Homo sapiens: one gene and its partners. The protein of the gene in region 1 interacts with the protein of each later gene in a biochemical or structural test. Each region holds a gene or a part of one and is shown on either strand. Other genes may lie near its edges.

The links. Proteins that work in one complex are often made in the same cells at the same time.
Region 2: the proteins of RNF4 (region 1) and UBE2D1 form a complex in vitro, tested with the Homo sapiens proteins (12 studies listed by BioGRID).
Region 3: the proteins of RNF4 (region 1) and SUMO1 form a complex in vitro, tested with the Homo sapiens proteins (5 studies listed by BioGRID, with this or other methods).

What each region holds. Positions count from the first base shown.
Region 1 is NC_000004.12:2,464,377-2,472,614, reverse strand, and holds the start of RNF4 (E3 ubiquitin-protein ligase RNF4), read right to left. Parts: upstream 3,510-8,238; 5' UTR 3,357-3,509; intron 3,163-3,356; exon of another isoform or gene 2,573-3,162; intron 1,629-2,572; exon of another isoform or gene 1,506-1,628; intron 1-1,505. UniProt on the Homo sapiens protein: E3 ubiquitin-protein ligase which binds polysumoylated chains covalently attached to proteins and mediates 'Lys-6'-, 'Lys-11'-, 'Lys-48'- and 'Lys-63'-linked polyubiquitination of those substrates and their subsequent targeting to the proteasome for degradation.
Region 2 is NC_000010.11:58,358,460-58,366,005, reverse strand, and holds part of UBE2D1 (ubiquitin-conjugating enzyme E2 D1), read right to left. Parts: intron 4,669-7,546; coding exon 4,605-4,668; intron 4,512-4,604; coding exon 4,480-4,511; intron 2,398-4,479; coding exon 2,320-2,397; intron 1,236-2,319; coding exon 1,130-1,235; intron 1-1,129.
Region 3 is NC_000002.12:202,207,598-202,215,143, forward strand, and holds part of SUMO1 (small ubiquitin-related modifier 1 isoform a precursor), read right to left. Parts: intron 6,838-7,546; coding exon 6,760-6,837; intron 3,210-6,759; coding exon 3,138-3,209; intron 406-3,137; coding exon of another isoform or gene 271-405; intron 1-270. UniProt on the Homo sapiens protein: Ubiquitin-like protein that can be covalently attached to proteins as a monomer or a lysine-linked polymer.

The sequences.
Region 1 (8,238 bases):
TTTTTTTTTTTTTAAGAGACTGGCAGTGGAGGGGGTGGTCTCACTATGCTGCCCCGGCTGGTCTCTAACTCCTGAGCTCAAGCGATCCACCAGCTTTGGCCTCCCGAAGTGCTGCGAGTACAGGCATGAGCCACTGTGCTCAGCCTCAAGATGCATTTCTTAAGTAAGATTTGAGAGTTGAAATTACTCCTTGATCCATGGGCTGCAGAACAGATGTTAACATTAATCTTACTCATCTCCATGAGACCTCTTTGGTGACTAAGCACATTCTCAATGAGCAGTAATATTTTGAAAGAAATCTTTTTTTCTGAGCTGTAGATCTCAATAGTGGGCTTAAAATATTCAGTAAAACATACTGTAAACAGATATGCTACTATACAGGCTTTCCTGTTTCAATGATCAGCACACAGTAGATTTTTGCATACTTCTTAAGGGCCCTAGGATTTTCAGAATGGTAAATGAGCACTAGTTACAACTTAAGTCACTGGCCACACTAGCCCCTAACAAGAGAATCAGACTGTCCTTTGAAGCCAGGCATTGACCTTTCTCTAGCTATGAAAGTCCTAGATAGTATTTTTTTTTCCATATAAGGCTGTTTCATTTACATTGAAAGTCTGTTGTTTAGTGTGGCCACCTTCATCAATTATTTTAGCTATATGTTCTGCATAACTTGCTGCAGCTTCTTCATCAACACTTACTGCCTCACCTTACACTTTTACATTACAGAGGTGGCTTCTTCCCTTAAACCTCATGAACTAACCTCTGCCAGTTTCAAACTTTTCTTCTGCAGCTTCCTCACTCTTCACAGAATTGAAGAGAGTTAGTACCTTGCTCCGGATTAGGCTTTCGCTTAAGGGAATGTCATGGATGGTTTGATCTTCTATCCAGACCACTAAAACTTTCTCCCTATCAGCAATAAGGCTGTTTGGCTTATCATTCATGTATTCATTGGAGTAGCATTTTAATTTCAAGAACTCTTCCTCTGCATTCACAACTTGGCTAACTGTCATTCAGCACAAGAGGCCTAGCTTTTGGCCTATCTCAACTTTTGATACGCCTTTCTCACTAAGGATAAACATTTCTTAACTTCACTTAAAGTAAGAGAGATTCAACTGACTGCTCCTTTTGCCTGGACACTGTAGGGTCACTGACTGGCCTAATTTCAATATTGTGTCTCAAGGAATTGAGAGGCCTGAGGAGAGAGACTGGGAACTGCCAGTCAGTGGAGCTGTTAGTACACACCCAACTTTTACCAATTAAGTTCACTGTCTTATATGAGTGCTATTCATGGTAACCCAAAACATTGATCACAGGTCACTATAACAGATGTAACAATGAAAAGGTTTGGGGCTGGGCATGGTGGCTCATGCCTGTAATCCCAGCACTTTGGGAGGCCGAGGCAGGCGGATCACTTGAGGTCAGGCGTTCGAGACCAGCCTGGCCAATATGGTGAAACCCCGTCTCCACTAAAAATACAAAAATTAACTGGGTGTGGTAGTACATGCCTGTAATCCCAGCTACTCCGGAGGCTGAGGCAGGAGAATCACTTGAGCCCAGATGGCAGAGGTTACAGTGAGACCGAGAACACGCCAGTGCACTGCATCCTGGGTGACAGAGTGAGATTCCACCTCAAAAAAAAAAAAAAAAAAAAAGTGTGAAATATTGTGAATTACCCAAACGTGACACAAGAGACACAAAGTGAGCACATGCTGTTGGAAAAATGGCTGGCATTTACAGACTTGCTCGATGAATCCTTGCTATAAACCTTCACCTTGCAAAAAAAAAAAGGCAGTATTTGCAAAACACAATAAAATGAGTTATCTCTTATTCCCTCCATCCTCACCCAGCTACAGGAGGACCACGACTGTTTACTGCTGTATTCCAAGCAGAAAGGTTGGCATACAGGAGACCTCAAAAATACGCTACTTTGATCTTGAGGAGAGTGAAAAATCTTACTCATTTTATGTACAAAGCACAGATGTGCATACATTATATAAAAAGAAATAGTTTACGTATGGCATTAAGATTTCATGAAGATTAGAAAAACAATGTTTACAAAAGGTCCTTACAAAGGTAGTAATTCAAGAAAAGATCAATAAACGATGTGTTAAAGTAAGATTTTTGGAAGCTCAAATTCAGGCAATACAAAAGCCAGCAATATATCTTGCTACTCGAATGCCTCTATTTCACCTCAAACTCACAGATAAAACTGAACCCAATATGTCCTTGTCCATTAAAAAGCAAATCACCAAGAAAGTAACAAAAGATTCCCTTCAATGTCTCTTTTATTGACAGTGGTCCCAAAACTCCTGGTCAATGAATTCAAAACCCAAATCTTGCAGGTAGGACTTAACCTCATCTGCTGCCAAATAGCTGGCTATGTGACCTTGGGCAGACCACTTCACTTTTCTGGACCTCAGTCTCCCCAGTCAGTTGGACAGTCTAAGCCAGGCTCCAGAGCTGAGACCCTACGTCTGGCTCAAGAACTTGGTGCAGAAACAGAACGAAGATTATTAAGTTTGTGAACGTCTATGGGAACTGACAAGTGAAAGACAAAAGCTGAAATCCCTACCAAAACGGCTTGCCCAAGCTCTATCCTTTTCCCTCTTCCCTCGATGGATCAAAGGCGGAAAAGCGGTGTTTACTAGCAACTCTGTTTCGGGTCGTGAGAATCTTCATACACCTGTCTATAGGCGCGCCAGAGCGGTGAAGGGCCCGAGCGGTGCAGGGCTGGGCCGCAAGCCTCACAGTCGCACGTTCCACCAACCACCAGCCGGGGCCCGGAAGCGCGCCCGGAAATCGAGGCCCTACTAAGTTTTAGACTGCGACCTCGGCGCCCCCACGGTCAGGCCCGCACCCGTACTCAGATCCTCCCGACCTACAAAAGGCCCCGCCACGCGGCCCACGCACCCCGGCAAACTCGCAGGCCCCACGATGGCGGGGCGGCGGCGCGAACACACAAAGGAGGCGTCGTCAGCGGGGAACAAAAACCCTGCCCGGGTCTTCCCCCTAACAGCACATCCTGCCCGACTTTCCAAGTGACCTTGGGGGCGTTCCTGCCCCTCCCAGAGTCTCAGTTTCCCTTCCTAGGCTAGGAACTAAGCCCCATGGCCGCGGCCCCCCAGGGTGAGCCGAGACCCAGACGCAGACCTCCTAACTTCTGTTGCCCGCGCCAAGCCGGGCTCGGTGCGCCCGCGCGGACGGCAGTGCGAGCGACCAGAGCTGGCTCGAGGTCCCGGGCTGCAAAGCCTCGGCTGGGTCAAGCCGCGCAGCGCGGCTCCCCCAAGAGGCGCGGGCCGAGGCCTCTGTAGGCCGCGAAGCTGCCTAAACCTCGCATCTGCAAGGCCCTGACTTACCGCTGCTTTCCCGCAAAGCTCGGCCTAACCTGGAGCTAGTTAGGTCCGCAGGCGCCACCGCCGGCGCACTCCGGAGAAGAAGCTCCTTCTTCAGCCGCCCAGGAGAGCTCCTCGAGAAAGATGCCGCCGCCTCAACAGCAACCCACTTCCGCTTCGGAGGCCTCGGCTCCGCCCCCCATCATGTCCCCATTGGCCGCCCGCCTACTCTACTTCCGCGGTCGGCCGGGTAAGGACAAATTTTTTAATCCTATTGGATAAGAAAACCATCTGTTACCACTTTAAAACGCGCCTCTTTCCGCCCCCGCCCACAATCGAGCGCACTAACTCGCACCTTCCGGCAAGAGACGGCGCGGGCGCGCCCCGCCCGCAAGGTTTTTCGGGAGTCACGGTCTGAGGGCGACCCGGGCGACCCGGTCGCCCGTGCCCGGCTGCCACTGACCGCTCCAACGCCGCCAGGGACGACCCGCCAGCTGCCTCCGGAGCCGAGCAGGCCCCGAACCTTCCCATTCCTAGATTTCCAGCCGCACAACAGCCGCGGTGCCCCTGGCTCGACGCAGCTGGCCGGAGGCGCGGAGCTGGTCGTTCGTCCCGCCCGCCGTTCCGCGCCCCTCTCCCGGCTCTTGTTTCCTCGCCTCTTAACGAGGCCTTTGTGAGGAAGGTTGCTGGGCCTTGGGACTCTGACGATCGGCTGGAAACCAGGCCTGGCCCTGTTTCAGCATCCCCGCGTGCCAAGCCCTGGGCCGGCGTGCGGGTCCCTGCCCCTGCGAGGAAGCTGGGACTTTTGCAGGCCTGGGTGGAGACGTGTACATAACAGAGGAAGAGTGTGGAGGATTGGAGGACTCAGGGCAGCACGGCAGAGGTGCATGCAGGTCCCCGGTCGGACTGGAGAATGGGCGGTGGGTTTCTTGAGCTCCAGTCCCTGAGCTCGACTTTGACGTGGGTTTAGCAACCAGGAAAAAAGCCCACCTTGTCCCTGCTGCCTGAGAATACCCAGACCTTAGTCCATGGCCAGCATCTCTGGTCCCTCGGCACCCTCAGGCAACGTGAAGGTCACCCCAAATGCCTTGGGTTACATTGTTTCCTTACAGTGAGTTTGTTTGTTTTAGTGGCGCGATCTCGGCTCACTGCAAGCTCTAACCTCCTGGGTTCACGTGATTCTCCTGCCTCAGCCTCCCGAATAGCTGGGATTACAGGCGCCTGCCACCACGCCCGGCTAATTTTCTTTGTATTTTTAGTAGAGATGGAGTTCCATCATGTTGGCCAGGCTGGTCTCGAGCTCCTGACCTCAGGTGATCCACCCTCCTTGGCCTCCAAAAGTGCTGGGATTACTGGTGTGAGCCACCTCGCCCGGCCACCTTACAGTGAGTTTCTAACCTCGAAAATGGAGTCAAATAACGGAATGACAAGGCAGATAGAAACCAGAGCATTAACGTTTTTGTGTTGCATTTACAAACAATATGTGTTTGCTATTTTTCGTAATTGTAAGGAAATCTGGCATGGTAGAGTATCTGATAGATAAATGTAATTCTCATGTAAAATATCTAAGTATTTGTGTTTTTTGTTTGTTTGTTTGTTTGTTTTGAGACGGAGTCTCGCTCTGTCGCCCAGGCTGGAGTGCAGTGGCGCGATCTCGGCTCACTGCAAGCTCCGCATCCCGGGTTCACGCCATTCTCCTGCCTCAGCCTCCCAAGTAGCTGGGACTACAGGCGCCCGCCACCACGCCTGGCTAATTTTTTTTTTTTTGTATTTTTTAGTAGAGACGGGGTTTCACCGTGTTAGCCAGGATGGTCTTGATCTCCTGACCTCGTGATCCACCCGCCTCGGCCTCCCAAAGTGCTGGGATTACAGGCGTGGGCCACCGCACCCAGTCTTTTTTTTTTTTTTTTTTTTTGAGACGAGGTGTCACTCTGTCAGCCAGGCTGGAGTGCAGTGGCACAATCATGACTCACTCACTGCAGCCTCGACCTCCCCAGGTTTAGATGATCAACCCACCTTGGCCTCCTGAGTAGCTGGGACCACAGGTGTGTGCCACCATGCCTGGCTAATTTTTTTGTATTTTTTTTTTGTAGACACTGGCTTTCGCCATGTTGCCCAGTCTTGTCTTGAAGCCCCGGGCTCAAGTTATCTGCTCACCTCGACCTCCCAAAGTGTTGAGATTACAGGCATGAGCCATCACACCCTGCCCTAAGTATTTGATTTTTGATAGCGACTGTAAGTTGAAAGGTATAACATTTTCCGAAGTTTGTGATTATAATTGGAGCAAAGAGAACTTAAAAGTTTAAAAGAAATGAAGACATTTAATATATCTATGAGAATTATTTAAATATTAATACTTGATAAGGCAGACAACTGAAATGCTAAAAAATAAAATTAGATTCTACGTGTATAAATGCAGTTGAAAATGTTTAAGAGAATTTCAGTTCATAAATGGGGCCGTACATGATTAATCAAAATGGTGGTTAAAAATGATCAGATTTAGGGCGGGCATGGTGGCTCTCACCTGTAATCTTAACACTTTCGGAGGCTGAGGTGGGAGGATTGCTTGAGCTGAGGAGTTTATAGATGAGCCTGGGTAACGTGGTAAAACCCCCTCTCCACACACACACACACAAATAATAATTAGCCGGGTGTGGTGGCATGTCCCTGTGGTCCCAGCTACTCAGGAGGCTGAGGCAGCAGGATTACTTGAGCCCAGGAGGTCATGGCTGCAGTAAGCTGTGATTGCACGTCAGCTTGATTGACAGAATGAGACCCTCTCTCTCTCAAAAAAAAAAAATCAGATTTAGAAAAAGTAATATTAGTAATTTGTATTTTACAGCCTAAGGAAAAGTTAGGGTTTTCTGTTTGTAACTGTAATATATTGAAGATGTGATGTTGAAAAAGTCTCTATAAATACCAGTTTCATGCTCAAAGACTGCCTTCAGCCAGGGCAACATAGTGAGACCTCATCTCTACTAAAAATAAAAAATTAGCTGGGTATGGTGGTAAGTGCATGCAGTCCCAGCTAGTAGGGAGGATGAGGCAAGAGGATCACTTGAGCCCGGGAGTTTAAGGCTGTATGAGCTATCATCACGTCACTGCACTCCAGCCTGGGTGACAAAGCGAGACCCTGCCTCAAAAACAAAAACAAAAGCTGCTTTCAAGTCTTCTCCAAGCCTCACTTGCACTGAACTTGTTCCTTCACAAATAGCGCTTCCCTTGGGCCCTGAACGCCTGCAGCTTAGAGAAAAGACCGGCACCTTGGTGCTCCCATAGTCCCACAAGTCGAAACCAGCTGAATGCAGGTTCCTGGGCCTCACACCAGCTACTAAATCTGTTTCTTCACTATTTCCAAAGAAAGCCCCTGCCCAAGTGGGTCTCAGATGCTATCAACAAGGATCTTCTGACTAGCCTGTACTCAGGCAAAATGTCCACTCCCCAGGCAGTCCAGCCAGGAAAGGTTCAGAGAGGGATTGTCAGCACTAGCTGGGCCATATCTCACTCTGGCTGGCCCCCTTTGGGGGAGTAGCTTGATTCTCTGTAAAGAGCCTATGCAGGGAGGGAAGGCAGGGGCCCCTAGTGTGAAGGCCCTGGGCTCTTAAGGGTGTGCCCCTTAGCTGCCTGTGCAGGGAGGGGAGGCAGGGGCCCCCAGTGTGAAGGCCCTGGGCTCTTAAGGGTGTGCCCCTTAGCTGCCTGTGCAGGGAGGGGAGGCAGGGGCCCCCAGTGTGAAGGCCCTGGGCTCTTAAGGGTGTGCCCCTTAGCTGTTGCTCTGGAACAAACCACCCCAAAGCTTGATACTTTGAATGACAGACATTTATTGTTGCTCATGAATCTATAAGACAGCAGGGTTGGGGGAGGTTCTTGTCCGGCTGCGCTCTCATTTTGTGCTCTGCTAGTCTAGGATGGCCTCTGAGATGGTGTCCTCCACATGGTGTCTGATCCCAGCAGGCCACCCTAGTCATGCTCACATGGGGCCTGGCGAAGGTTCCAAGAGAACAAGTGGGAGCTCCAAGGCCACCTGAGGCCCAGACTCAGAACTGGCACGTGGTCACTTCTGTTGCACCCTATTAGCCAAAGAAAGTCACTAGGCCAGACCAGATGCAAGGGCTGGGGGAATAGACTCCACCTCTCGATGGGAGGTGTAAAGTCACAAGGCAAGGGGCAGGGATACACAGACATTTTGCCATCACTCTATCACACAATGCCTACTCCCAGGCCACAACTTTAGGGAATGGTCCGAGGCCTGCTCCCACCTAGGTTTGTATGAGGAGAGGCCCCACGTGCTCTCAAGCTAGCTCTAAGCGGCTGCTCAGTCCAGGAGGGGGCAGGGGAAGACCTTGTTACCTGCCAACCAACAGTGTTGCCAATAGTACCCTCAATTTGTTAGCTGCCACATCTCCCCTCTGCTCCAGAGGCCAACCTTCTAGGTGAAGGGTAATTCCCCTGCCTTGCCACAGTGCTTGCTTCAGGCACCCATGCAGACCTTCCCTCACTGCAGGAACTGGCTCAGCCCAAGTATGTTCAATTCAGGCCAATGAGACTGGGGCAACTGTTCTTTGTTCCTCAGGCTGGAACTGCTACCAGAGTGGAGACTGAGCTCCTGGATCGGGTACATCCTGAAGTCTGCTGCCTTTGGATTGGCATTATGAGAGCTAATAAATCCCCCTTTGAAACCCCCAGAGCTCAGAGGGGCTTTCTAGGCCAGGCATCATCAATGTATTCCATCAATATCAAATTAAATGGGTTTGGATCACACAACACGGGATATGAGCAATGTTTATTTCTTTTTTTTTGAGATGGAGTTTGACTCTTGTCACCAGGCTGGAGTGGTGCGATCTCAGCTCACTGCAACCTCCGTCTCCTGGGTTCAAGCGACTCCATTCTCTTGCCTCAGCTTCCCGAG
Region 2 (7,546 bases), on another chromosome or scaffold:
GATGAGCATCTTAGGTCAGAAAAACTATCGTTCATAAATAATTGAACTGAAAGAGCTATTATTTATCTAATATTTGAAAGAGCTACGGCTGTGGACCCTGCTTCCTATAAACCTTATTACTTTTAAAAACATGCTGTATATTCAAGTAGCAATTATTAAAAATAAAAAATGAGTACAGATTGCTTCCATAAATCCCTTCAAGAGAAACATTTTCTTCAATTTTATAAAAACGGAAAACTTGATGGTTGCTTCAGTGCAGCTACTTCTAACCTAAACAGTATTTTCCAACTGTCAGGTTCTCTTCTTTCAGAGAAACAAGACATAAATTAAGAGTGCTAGCACAGTAAGTAGCAGTGGCTAATGAAATAAAATGGCTTGAGATGCCTATGTATACACCTGATAATCCAGCAAAGAACAGCTATACCCCTGTAAAAGTTGAGAATCAGCACAGATCTTGTGTCAGTCACTATAATGATGCTACTGATTATTCGAAGTTTAGACTAACATGCTATATGTACTGCATTATCCTACAGTGTGAAATGTCTTTCATCTTAAATCATTTATCAATCAAATCTGGTATTTTATTCTTGGATGAAGTAAAACAGCTGTAAAGCTTTATTATTGTCAACATTTCCATTTAATGAATGGGACAACCAGTCCCAAAATCTTCCTTTTACTATCTCTTATTCTCTCTCTTCTTTTGCAGAGATGGGGTCTCCTATGTTGCCCAGGCCGGTCTCGAACTCGGGCTCAAGCAATCCTCCACTTCAGCCTTCCAAAGTGTTAGAATAACAGGCATGAGCCACAGTGCCCGGGCACTCTCTCTTTTTTAAAAGACAACACCCAAGCTAAAAGGATAAAATATCAATAGGTTTATCCCCAAATTTCTAGCTCTGATATTTTAAGGTTTTTTCTCATTTCATCATTTAGATTTGTCCATCCACACTCCCCTCAACCAAAGCTAACTGCCAAAAGCCATAGTAACATAAGAGCAAAGAGAGCAAAACAAAATCAAAACAGGAGAAAGCACAGTTGATTGTTGTTTTAAAACTTTAGTCCATAGGTAATTCTGCTGTATTTTTCCTGTCTCACTGTTATCAACTGTTTCAAACCTGATCAATGAAATTACCTTTTGATACAGTCAGAGCTGGTGACCATTGTGACCTCAGAATATCGAGACAAATACTTCCATTACTGTTTATGTTTGGATGGTAAATTTTTGTTGTGAAAGCAATCTAAACATAAAACAAAACAACAAAATATGACAATCACCTTTGAATCAACTATGAATAAAACAGAACCAATTTGCTCTAGGGTAAAATATCCTCAACTTTACATAACTTTAGAGGAGAAAAGTCATCAACACAAATCAAATAATTATCTACTTTGTGCTACACACAGTTCTAGCTAGTGAGAATGTGAACACAAACAAGTCAGCTTCCTTCTTTTGCCCTCAAAGGAACTGAAGAGTATTTTGGACAGTGTAATAAATAAGTCTCTAGTAGCCGGTATGACTGGTTGAGCAGCATCTAAAGTAATTAACCATGGCTTCCATCATATGTAGAAGTAATCCTTTTCTTAATTTGATTATTGGTGATACCTGGAAGTAACATTTGGATCTAAAACCAGGGTGCTGACGCTGTTTCAGGGCAAAGTTGAGGCGTCTCAGCTAAGAAATCCATTAAGAATCCTAATTTTCCACAAGAGTTGTCATACCATTTCATAAATACAATGTTAATCTGTTTTTAACTATTTAAAATAATTATATCCTGAGTGACAAAATCTGCCCACTTTTCCCCTCCCTGATATCCCCATCATTTGTTTCCTCTTTAGAGCAAATCTAAATCTAACATGTGTTTCTCTCTCCTACCATACTAAATTAAGGGACTGCTTCATATTTACTTTCGGATTCCCCAGTGTAGAAGAACACAGTAGGTACTCGGTGAATGTTTATTGAATACTTAAAAAAAAAAAACAGAGAAAGAATGATCAACTTTGTAAGGATAATCCCATGAATAGAAAAGTCTGACTCTTAATCATAAAAACGTCCCAAACTACACATATCCAATAAGAAGGAAAAGAAAAGCAAGGAATTTAATTTATAGCATGACACGTACTGACTTTTGTTTTATAGACTTAATACAGTATTTCAATAAGAAATCAGATTTTAGATTCAGTAGTTTTTACAAAACAGTTTGAAAATGCTAACCTCCCCACAGTCTTTGACATATCAAATGAGCTCTAGATAATCAAATGAGCTCTAGATAAAGAATAAAATCTCTTACATGGGAGTCACATCAATCATAAAAATAAAAATACCTTTGGTGGTTTAAAAGGATAATCTGTCGGAAAATGTACAGTGAGAAAGAAGACTCCACCTTGATATGCGCTATCAGGCTGAAATTACAAAAGATTTGCATCAGCATTTGATTACTATATTTATTTATAACAACAAAATTATTTCCCCCAAATATTATCAGTTTGAAAAAAATGCCATCATGTTTAAAATAATTTCATTAAATATTACCAATATGAAAAAAATGCAACCATTTTGTCATAAGTTCAAATCATTTACTTTGAGAACAGGTTTCTCTGCAGGTACGAAGGAGGATTTTCCAACAACTATGCCGACATCATAAAATTTAAAACAAAACAAAAACAGGACACACACAGTGCTGTGACTTGTCCAAACAAATCTGGTTATGAGTACAAATTGTTAAAGATCAGTATACACACGACTGCTGTGGGAAAAGATCATTTTCTGCAGCCGTAATCAGTATTTTTTTTGAAAAAGGGTTGAGGATAGTAAAACTTAAGTTCTGATGTTCACTTGATGACCAAGAATGGAGATGAACTGAAGAGGCTGTCGTGAAAAGAAAATGCTAAGGACCCTGCTACACAATTTATGTGCCAAATCTTCGTTTAGTAATTATTTATAAAATAATGTAGAGAACCCAAAAAAATCCAAAACAAAATTATATATTCATGCTACTATCAAATTGGGAATCAACTTTACTAGAGAAATTTAAATTTGACCATGTTTCTTTATAGCCATTAGAAAATATAACATTACAAGCAAAAAAATTTTAAAAAAAGAAAATGCTAGCAAACTATACCTACAATTCTATTTTAATTCTTTCATATTTAATTAAATATATCATGTTATATTAGCATTCTGGTAATAACACCAAGACTCATTACTTTCTCGTTAAGTTTCCACATATATGCTAGAGGATTTTCCTGTATAATAATTCTTACTATATATATTGTTTAAACAATTCTAGTTTATCAAAAATTGTAAGAAATATAGAAAATGAAGATAAATTACAATGACAGATATGGTCCAGAGTACTGTAAATATTTACATTACTAAAGTAAGGGAGTTATGAATAACATGATTATAACCATTTGTTACATGTGATTCACCTAAAAAATATTTGTGAAAGGCCATAATTCAAAAGGTAAGGGTGGGCCTTTAAATGAGAGTATTTTGAAGGTTCTTAGTAACTAATTAAAAACAAACAGAAATAAATGGATTCTTATTGAAAGTTGTTATATAAATACATTGTATTTTGCCTTTTTAGAAAAACAAACTTAATAAAACAATAATTTGAGACAACTGCCCAGAGTACTGCTTTGAAATTCAGTAGTTTTGGTGTTTTTTAAAGTTAAACACAAGGTCGTATGATTAAAAACTCTGTAACTCACTAGATAAAGCTCTTTCAGGGCAGGGAGAAGAGAATGGTGTTCATGGAAACATGTTACTTATGTACTCTCACCCAGAAAGTAGATTTGAGCTGTCAGTGCTCATTCTTATGCAATCAGATTTTTTGCTCATAGAAAGAAAAAGCCTGTTTCAAGTCTTGTAACTGCCTCTAAAGTATTGAAAGAAATAATTTTAACAAAAGTAATAAGTATTGAGAGTAGCCAATTATCAAACAGCAGATAATTTTGTGTTTAGGACAATGCAACAAAATTAAAAGCAGCAAATTTATAAGGAGGTAAAGACAGACCCATTGTAATATTTTATTGATTCTCTTTCACAAAAAAGAACAGTGATGAAACTTATGGCAAACTGACACTTGTTACTTGTAGGAATTCAATTATTGGCTTCATTAGACTAATTTCTAACCTACCAAAACTGTGGATGTGAGAATGATTATGGTTAATTACAACTAACTCTCTGTGACTTAAAAAAAAAAAAAAAAAAGATAAACACACAGCCTGGTTGCGAGCTGTGGCACTCCATTATGTGTAATGATCTAGGATTCAGCAAAGGAAAACATAATAGTGATCCCAGGAAATATTTGCCACCAATGCTTTGGAAAATCATTGTAAATCCTTAATAATATTTTGCTTCCTAGGTGATTCAAAGTACAAGAATATTCAACCTTCATCACAAACATCTGATCAAAGGTGAAATGGCAAGAATGAAGTATGGCTGAGGGGGTTAATTTCATAGATATGAATCATACTTACAGGCCCCATAATAGTGGCTTGCCAGTGGAACACTGAAACAAACAAAGGAGTTTTGGAGTCATTAACAAATGTTCAAACCTATATTTTTAAAGGTAGCATAATCCCAGAAATAGAGCAAGGCTTACAGTCATCTCCCACAGGTCCAGCTGAACAGTGAGCAGGTGGATCGCGCTGTAGATCACTCAATTCCTGAAGGAAATCAAAAATATGTAAGGTTAATTCCTTCTTTTCCCAATGAAACAAGGGTAATGATCCATTAAGATGCAAACTATTAGCTTTAAAAACATTTAAAGCAGTTCTATTCAAAATATAAAAACATAAATTGTACTCTGTCATTGACTGGTAGAAAGAATAAGGTACTCAATTCCTCCATGAGACAGCTTCAGACCTTGAAAAGATTAAATGGAAAAAAAATACTGTTTTTCTTTAACATCCCTAAGAGAAAAACTATTTAATGAGTACCTACTGTATGTAAGATAATTTATGTAAATGCTAGGTTGATAATATATCAGAAAACAGGTACTATTTTAACAGGTTACAATCTATTGAGGGAGCATGAAGGCTCAGAAAGAATAATACTTCAGGATAACTTTTTTTTTTTTTTTGAGACAGGATCTCACTTTGTCGCCCAGGATGGAGTGCAGTGGCACGAAAGCTCACTGCAGCCTCAACCTCCTGGGCCTAAGCGATCCTCCCACCTCAGGCCCCCACTCCTACCCCGAGTAGCTGGCACTACAGGCATGTGCCAGCACACCCGGCTAATTTTATTTGTAGAGATGGGGTCTCGCCATGTTGAACAGGTTGTTCTCCAACTCCTGTGCTCAAGTGATCCACCTGCCTCGGCCTCCCAAAGTATTGAATTACAGGCATGAGCCACTGCACCCAGCTCATTTAAGGACAACTTGAAATGGGAAATAAACGAGCAGCAGTCAGGCCATGTTTTGAAACTTAGAACATTGATTCATACCCTGTTTCCTGCCCTCAAGGCAGCAAAGATCACAGAAAGGACACAGCTTTAGAGTTCACCCCGCCCCTGGGTTGTAATTCCAGTTCTTTCCATTTTTCTTCTTTTCTCTTTTTTGGATTTTTTTTTTTCCTCTAACAGAGAGAATTCCAGTTCTAATAGATCTCACTCTTTGGCCTTGTGGAAGTTACTTCACTTCTTTAGCCACAGTTTGGGAGAAACTGATCATCCCAAAGAAGAAAGGCATACATTCAATATAAAGGACTATAACTGAAGAACTTAATTTAGTTTGGAAGATCAATAATCATCTCTGAGGAAGTGACATTTAAGCTGAAATCTAAAGGATGAGTAGGAGTTACTTTTGGAGGAAAAGAGTGATACTGGGAGGCAGAGTGGCAGAGGATGAGGCTGGAAATGTGGGCAGAAGCCAGGCAGGAAACAGACAACCATACAGACCACATTAATGATGTGGTGTTTTATACCAAATGCATTAGGTAGGGGGTGAGGGAGGTCTTAAGAAGTGGCATGTTCTGATTTAATGGATGGTTGTGACTGGATTAGACATGGGAAAGAGGAGAAGCTACAATATTAGTTGCTGCATAGGCAAGAAAAATGGGGGCTTAGATTGGAGAAGTGGCAACAAGATAGAAGTGGTAGATGTGAGATACTCTGAAGGGCCTATCTATCACAGGAGTTGATGAATTACATGTGCAGAGGAAGGAGAGAAGTCATAGATATGTATGATGAAGATTAGGGACAGCTAACATTTATTCAATGTCTTAGTCATTCTAACAATCCTCAGAGATAGGTGTTATTATGTTCCCCATTTTACAAGTGAATAGTTAAGGTGACATACTTCACTGCATGCTTGAGTAACTACTATAGGGCGGAACTGGGATTCAAACCCAGGTGGGCGATCATCTCATGTTTTAGTTCCACAAATGTACGAATGTGGATGCCATTCACTGAGATAGAGAACAATAGAAGACAAACTGATTTGGAGAGTAGATATGTTGAATCTGTAATCCTTGTGATATGAAGAAACAATGTGGTTCAACATACAGGGGTGGACCTTAAAAAAGGATAGAAATTGGAAAATCATTGCATATATCTGATATTTAAAACCATGAGAATGATGTAAACATTTTTGTGGGAACACACAAAAATAAATATGCACTTAATCAAATCTAAGATGTCATCAACTGTACAGCACATCCTTATTTTAAGTACCAATAATTAAGAAAAAATGCTGCCAATTTATTTTAAAACACCATCAATTGTAAAATGCATCCACACTTTAGAAAAGTTAAAATGTGAAAGATGTCCACCTTAGAATCACTGCAATAAGGTAATTATGGCAATGAGTTCAGTGCTCTAATAGAGACAAACAAGAAGGAGGGTGTGACAGGGAAAGGCCTTCCTAAGAAAGTGATAAATGAGCTGGGTGACTGAGCCAGGTACAAACTCAGGTCTCCTTCTAAGCTCAATGTTATTTTCCAGTATACCTTGGTATTTTCATTTTTGTTTTGCTTTTTTTTTTTTTTTTTTTAAATAGCTGGTGCGGTTTCTCTTCCTAGTAAGAATTAACTAACAGGGTTAGCTGCTTCTTTGGTCCATGTTACAGTTAAGCAATAACGGACCAAGCAGGCTGATTCATGCCTGTAATTCCAATTACTTGGGAGGCTGAGGCAGGAGGGTCGCCTGAACCCAGGAGTTCGAGGCTGCAGTAAACTATGATTGGGCCTCTGCACTCCAGCCTGGGTGACAGAGCAAGACCGCATTTAAAAAAAAAAAGAAAAAGAAAAAGCAATAAGGAAACAGATTTCAGACTTTGACTTAACTATGCTGGGTAAAAGCAGCAAGGCTTTGAAGTTCAAGTCTGGGTGCCACCACTCACTTCCCACATGATCTTGGGAAAAATCTTTTTTTCTCTCTCCAAAGCTCAGTTTTCAAGTGGCACTACCTCCATCCACAGTTTCTATGACAACCAAGTGAAATGATACATGTCAAGTGTACAGCACAGTCTCTGGCACATAGTAAGCATTCAAATAAAGGGAACTGACAGCCTTCCAATTCTCTAGCAGCAGAATACAATTATTAAAA
Region 3 (7,546 bases), on another chromosome or scaffold:
GAACTTTTAAATCTAATGAAACATGTATTTAATAGTTTAAGTGATAGTTTAATAGGATATATCTAATTTGGTGTTTGTTTGTTTTTGTTTTTTGAGACAGGGTCTCATTATATTGCCCAGGCTGGAGTACAGTGGCACAATCTCAGCTCACTGCAACCTCAGCCTCCTGGGCTCAACCTCAGCTCACTGCAACCTCAGCATCCTGGGCTCAACCAATCCTCCCAGCTCAGCCTCCCAAGTAGCTAGCACTACAAGCGTGCGCTACCATACCTGGCTACTTTTTCTATTTTTAGTAGAGATGAGGTTTCGCCATGTTGCCCAGGCTGGTCTCAACTCCTGACCTGCAGTGATCCAGCCCGCCTCAGCCTCCCAAAGTGCTAGGATTGCAGGCGTGGGCCACTGTGCCTGACCAAAAAGTTTTAAATTTTATAGGTAACATTTTTGTGCAGAATTTTAAATATGAAAATAAAGTATGTTAAGAAATCTAAACATAACACATGTGAATTTAGGATTTTAAAGTGATCAGAATGGCTCTAGTAGTGTTAAGCTATCTTGGTTGTGGAACATATTTGAATATTTAAATAATTATTAAACATGCTTTTAGGCCAGGTGCAGTGGGTCACACCTGTAATCTCAGCACTTTAGGAGGCTGGGGGGGCGGCAGATCACCTGAGGTCGGGAGTTCGAGACCAGCCTGACCAACATGGTGAAACCCCGTCTCTACTAAAAATACAAAATTAGCCAGGCGTGGTGGTGCATGCCTGTAATCCCAGCTACTCAGGAGGCTGAGGCAGGAGAATCGCTTGAACCCGGGAGGCAGAGGTTGCGGTGAGCCAAGATTGTGCCATTGCACTCCAGCCTGGGCAACAAGAGCAAAACTCCATCTCAAAAAAAAAAAAAAAAAGATGCTTTTAAAACAATTTTAATTGCCCATATAGCATGGTAAATACTGCAAGGAATAAAATTCCAAGTGTTATTAGAAACCTTCAAAACAGGAAGACAGCATGAGTCCTTGAGCTATAAAGAATATAAAGCTACAAACTTCAAGAAGTACATTAACAGAGACAAGTGAACAACAGCACAGGAGGGTCACTCCCTAAAGACCTACTGTCTCCCACTGCACCAACATTCCTCTGAAAAAATAATCTCTTAATTACAAGGAATGTGTAAGGCATGTGTCAGTAAAATGTATTAGATATCTACTGTATGGTCCCAGAGATTATGCCAAGTTAAAGGAAAGTAAAAGATGAGTTTGGAACTTCTTACTGTGCCAGAAAGTAAGGAAGTGTTCAAGAAGGTGGTGGACACTAAACCTAAGGGGAATATTTGATGAGAAAGGGGATATTCGCATAGTTTCAAAGTGTGTCCCCTCAAATTACTTAATTGTAACAGGAAAAACAGTTAACTACAAAGTAAAAAAAAAAAAAAAAAAAAAGAGACAACACTTAAACTAAGTGATCAAAGCCTGGGCACATAGGGAGACTCCATCTCTACAAAAAATTTAAAAGCAGAGCATGGTGGCACATGCCTGTAATCCCAGCTATTCAGGAGGCTGATAGTGATAGGATTGCTAGAGCCCAGGCATTTGTGGCTGCAGTGAGCTATGACTGCATTCTAGTAGTCATACTAGAAAAACATAATATTTTTTTTTTTTTGAGACAGGGGACTCCTCGCTCTGTTATCCAGGCTCGTCTCGAACTTTTGGGCTCACTCAAGTGATCCTCCCGCTTCAGCCTCCCAAGCAGCTAGGACTATAGGCGTGCACCACCAATCCCAGCTATCAAATGCTGCACAATGTTATTTTATTTTATTTACTTTATTTTTGAGACAGGTTCTCACTCTGTCACCTAGGCTGGAGCACAGTGACATGACCAGGGCTCACTGCAGCCTCGACCTCCTGGGCTCAAGTGATCCTTCCACCTCAGCCCCCCAAGTAGCTGGGACTACAAACATGCACCACTAAGCCTAGTTAATTCTTTTTTTCTTTTTTTTTGAGACAGAGTCTCGCTCTGTTGCCCAGGCTGGAGTGCAGTGGCGTAATCTCGGCTCACTGCAACCTCTGCCTCCCGGGTTCAAGCGATTCTTCTGCCTCAGACTCCCGAGTAGCTGGGACTACAGGCACATGCCACCACGCCCGGCTAATTTTTGTATTTTTAGTAGAGACGGGGTTTCACCATACTGGCCAGGCTGGTCTCGAACTCCTGACCTCGTGATCCGCCCACCTCGGCCTCCCAAAGTGCTGGGATTACAGGCATAAGCCACTGCACCTGGCCAAATTTTTTTATTTTTAGTAGAGACGGGTTTTCGTCATGTTGCCCAGGCTGGTCTTGAACTCCAGGACTCAAGCAATCCACCCACTTTGGCCTCCCAAAGTGCTAGGATTACAAGTATGAGCCACCGTGCCTGGCCCACATGCTGTGCAATTTTAATTGGTGAATCTAAGGAATAGTTATACAGGAGAGTATTACACTATTCTCACAATTCAGTAAGTTTGAAATATTTTCAAAATAAAAAGTTAATAACCCTATATTGTTCCCACTATCAGAAATATCAGTAATGTTACTCTGTGTATGAAGGGAATCTATGTATATAGATACACACACACATACACACACACACACACTACTTTGAGATATCTCTATAGAGGGAAGATGGGTGGAATATAAAAGCAAAGCAAACTGCTCATAGAATAAAAAAATCAAATGAAGACAGAGAAGCATAAAAAAATAGGGTAAAACAAGATGACAGAGCCAAATATATTAATATACACTATGCTTCTGTATTAACATTCTCAAAATAGGTCAAAAATGAAAATCCAGCCATTAATGTTACCATCACCATGAAAGTATACCAGAAATTTACCAAATTTGAGGAACATTTGTCTATCTTCAAAAAGGATGTAGCATGTGACCTATGACAATTTCAGTACTCATTTTGTTTCTACCACCCTTTTTATTGGCACTTTTAAAGGCACTATAGGGGAAGTTCAACCCAAAACATTATTTCTTCTCTCCAACAAATGATATGCCATTTAAATCAGAGAATATTCAAGAAAAGGGCAGTTTTAACACCAGTGAACCAAACTGCTCAAAGGAGAATTTAAATTTTTTCTTGACTCAGGAGAAAAGTATACTCACTTCTTTTGGAGTATGATTATCAGCAATTCTCTGACCCTCAAAGAGAAACCTGAGTGAATTCATTGGAACACCCTAAAAAGGTAAAGATAATAATAATGCATACATACACACACAAATATTAGAAAACATAATGGTAACTTTGATGCACAAAAAGCAAGCATGAAAGCCTTAGAACACTACATAGAAAATAAAATTAGACAAGCTAATTCAATCATAAATACTATATACTGTACTGAGTAGCAACTATTTGCAAGGCCCTCCCTGTACCAATTCTTTACATACATAATCATAAGTGTTAAACACAACAACCCTGGAAGGTAGGTATTACCACCTTATCTTCATGTTACAGCTAGGGAACCTAAGGCTTGGAGCTAGCCAAGAATTTAAGCCCAAACCTGTTTCTAAGCCTATGCTCTTGACCACTACTCGATTCACTTTGCCCTAAATCTGTAAGCTAGAATAAAAGATCAGATCAGAAACTGGACGTGCACCCTCACTAGCTTCCAACTATACTGGCGAAATTGGTTTTAAACAGATTACATCATAAAATTTGGTAAAGCACAAATGGCTAGCTAGCTAATCTACCATAAACCTGGATGGCATAGATAGCGCAATATTACAAAATATATTAGTATACATTTTTCTAATCACTCTTCAACAAAAATAGCTGAAAGGGGAGACGGCTCACTTGAGGTCAGGAGTTTGAGACCAGCCTGGCCAACATTATCATAAAATCTGGTAAAGCGCAAATGGCTAGCTAGCTCATCTACCATAAACCTGGATGGCACAGATAGCACCATAAATATTACAAAATATATTAGTATACATTTTTCTAATCACTCTTCAACAAAAACAGCTGAAAGGGGAGAGACGGCTCACTTGAGGTCAGGAGTTTGAGACCAGCCTGGCCAACATAATGAAACTCCATCTCTACTAAAAATACAAAAATTACGGGGCAGGCGCAGTGATTCAGCCTGTAACCCCAGCACTTTGGGAGGCCGAGGCGGGTGGGTCACTAGAGGTCAGGAGTTCAAGACCAGCCTGGCCAACATGGTGAAACCCCATCTCTACCAAAAATACAAAAATTAGCCTGGCGAGGTGGCACGCGCCTGTAATCCCAGCTACTCGGGAGGCTGAGACAGGAGAATCACTTGAACCCGGGAGGTGGAGGTTGCAGTGAGCCAAGGTCGTGTCACTGCACTCCAACCTGGGCAACAGAGGAACACCCTGTCTAAAAAAAAAAATACAAATACAAATACAAAAAAAAATACAAAAATTAGCCAGGCCTGGTGGCAGGTGCCTGTAATCCCAGCTACTCGGGAGACTGAGGCATTGGGAATCACTTGAGTCCAGGAGGTGGAGGTTGCAGTGAGCTAAGACGGCACCACTGCACTCCAGCCTAGGCGACAGAGTGAGACTCTGTCTCAAAAAAAAAAAAAAAAAAAAAATCAATTCCCTGGCCTACAGATGGGGGGCGTAGAGACTATATGAATTTTCTTCAGAGTTATGAAAATTAAATGACGATGAATCTTTTTTTTTTTTTTTTTTTGAGACAGTGTCCCACTCTGCCACCCAGGCTGGAGTGCAATGGCGTGATCTCGGCTCATTGCAACCTCCGCCTCCTGGGTTCAAACGATTCTTCTGCCTCTGCCTCCCGAGTAGCTGGGATTACAGGCGTGCACCACCATGCCTAGCTAATTTTTGTATTTTTAGTAGAGACAGGGGTTTCACCATGTTGGTCAGGCTGGTCTCGAACTCCTGACCTCATGATCCGCCTGCCTCAGCCTCCCAAAGTGCTGGGATTAGAGGCGTGAGCCACTGTGCCTGGCCAATAATGTATCTTAAATACCTATGGCACAGTACACATAATTGAGATTTCAATAAATGTTTCTTTCCCCTGATGAATTTCATCTCAATTTTAACACCCAAAGTTATTACAAATGTGAAGTAGTTGAACCCCAATTAATGTGATTTTATTAAGTTAAACAATTAAAATCTACAAAAACAGAAGAGACAAAAATGCTTATTGTTTTACTTATCCTAACACCTAGTTTCTCTTTCTTATAATAAGTTTTTTTTAATGTGAGTTACAAATTTAAACTGTTAAAAGCAAACCTTCTAAAAATGAAATCTACAGGCCGGGCACGGTGGCTTATGCCTGTAATCCCAGCACTTTGGGAGGCCAAGGCGGGCGGATCACAAGGTCAGGAGTTCGAGACCAGCCTGACCAACATAGTGAAACCCCGCCACTACTAAAAATACAAAAATTAGCCGGGCGTGGTGGTGCATGCCTGTAATCCCAGCTACTCGGGAGACTGAGGCAGGAGAATCGCTTGAACCAGGGAGTCACAGGTTGCAGTGACCTGAGATCACACCACTGCATTCCAGCCTGGGCGACAGAGTGAAGACTCCATCTCAAAGAAATAAATAAATAAATGAAAATAAAATTTACAATACCTGAGTTAATATTATGTAATATAATTCAATTTTTTTTCTTTTTTTTCTTTTTTCTTTTTTTTTTTTGAGATGGAGTCTTGCTCTGTCACCCAGGCTGAAGTGCAGTGGCATGATCTCAGCTCACTGCAACCTCTGCCTCCCAGATTCAAGTGATTCTCCTGCCTCAGCCTCCCGACTAGCTGGGAATTACAGGCATGCGCCACCATGCCTGGCTAATTTTTGTACTTTTAGTAGAGACAAGGTTTTGCCATGTTGGCCAGGCTGGTCTTGAACTCCTGCCCTCAGGTGATCCGCCCGCCTCAGCCTCCCAAAGTGCTGGGATTACAGGCATGAGCCACTGCACCCAGCCTATAATTTAATTTAAGACTGATTAAACATATATTTCTTGCTTATTAAATCATAATTTCACTTAAACTATATCTTGGTTGTCTCATATTAATTCCAATTACATTTATTTTCAAAACCTATTTTATAAGGCCAGGCCTGGTGGCTCACGCCTGTAATCCCAGCACTTTGGGAGGCCGAGGTGGGCAGATCACCTGAGGTCGGGAGTTCGAGACCAGCCTGACCAACATGGAGAAACCCCATCTCTACTAAAAATACAAAATTAGCTGGGCGTGGTAGTGCATGCCTGTAATCCCAGCTACTCGGGAGGCTGAGGCAGGAGAATCACTTGAACTTGGGAGGCGGAGGTTGCAGTGAGCAGAGATCGTGCCACTGCACTCCAGCCTGGGCAGCAAGAGCAAACTCCATCTCAAAAAAAAAAAAAAAGAGAGATAATATACTAATAATACTACTACTTAAATTTAACATATGGCTAAACACTCATGATTAGAAGTACAAAAACAATCCATAGTAATCACCAAAAAATTACTTGCCTTTTTTGCTATATATACTGGTAAGCCATCAAGACAGAAACATTCATTTGAGCTCGCTTTTACAATTCTGAGTTACTTTTCAAACTAGTTCCCATCTTACGAATTCAAACTTTAAAATGGGCCACAAGACAAAAAAAGCAGTTAAGCAGGGTACAAGAAATGATAGAGTGTTTTCCTTGAGTTGCTAATGGTGAAAATAATAAAACAGGATTTTTCTTCTGACAATCTTCTATAAAAAAAAAAAAATTAACGACAAAGCATTGTACTTAATACCAAAATGGACGAACCTGTCTTTGACAGTATGATTCTTTGAGTTTCTTGAGATGTGTTGTCATTTTCACTTTGAAGTGAATCTCACTGCTATCCTAAGGAGATAAAAAAGAAAAAAATTATCCCTCTTTGTATAAATCATTTGCTTTACTTGAACCAAACTATTTAATTACACATATAGTGCAAATAGAAACATAAACCTTGTAACCTGTATTTTTCCACCACAATATTCTTTTTAGCATTCTTAACAGGTTTTCTTAAAACAGTGTAATCATCCTCAAAGTTACTGTATACCCATTACAAAAGAAACCGAGTAAAACAAAGTTAATCAGTCTTGAGTGTTAAAATTATCAGTATAAGTAAAAGTCTAAGTAAATGCATTCCTTCATTTGCCATTCTATTGTCAAAATAAAAGATGAACTATCGCATCTTTTATTTATCCCAATAGCAACTCAAAACAAAAAGTCTGTCCCCCCAAGTGAAGTGTCACTGAAGGTGGTCGCCTAGGAGAAAAGCAGTTAATTAGATAATAATTAATTGTATAAAATTCAATTTTATACAATAAGCGACTGAGAAATTTATTCCTGCCATAAAAAATCACCACATGGGGCTGAGCGCAGTGGCTCATGCCTGTAATCCCAGCAATTTGGGAGACCAAGGCAGGCGGATCACAAGGTCAGGAGTTCAAGACCAGCCTGGCCAGTATAGTGAAACCCCGTCTCTACTAAAAATACAAAAATTAGCCAGGCATGGTGGCACACACCTGTAGTCCCAGCTACTCAGGAGGCTGAGGCAGAAGAATTG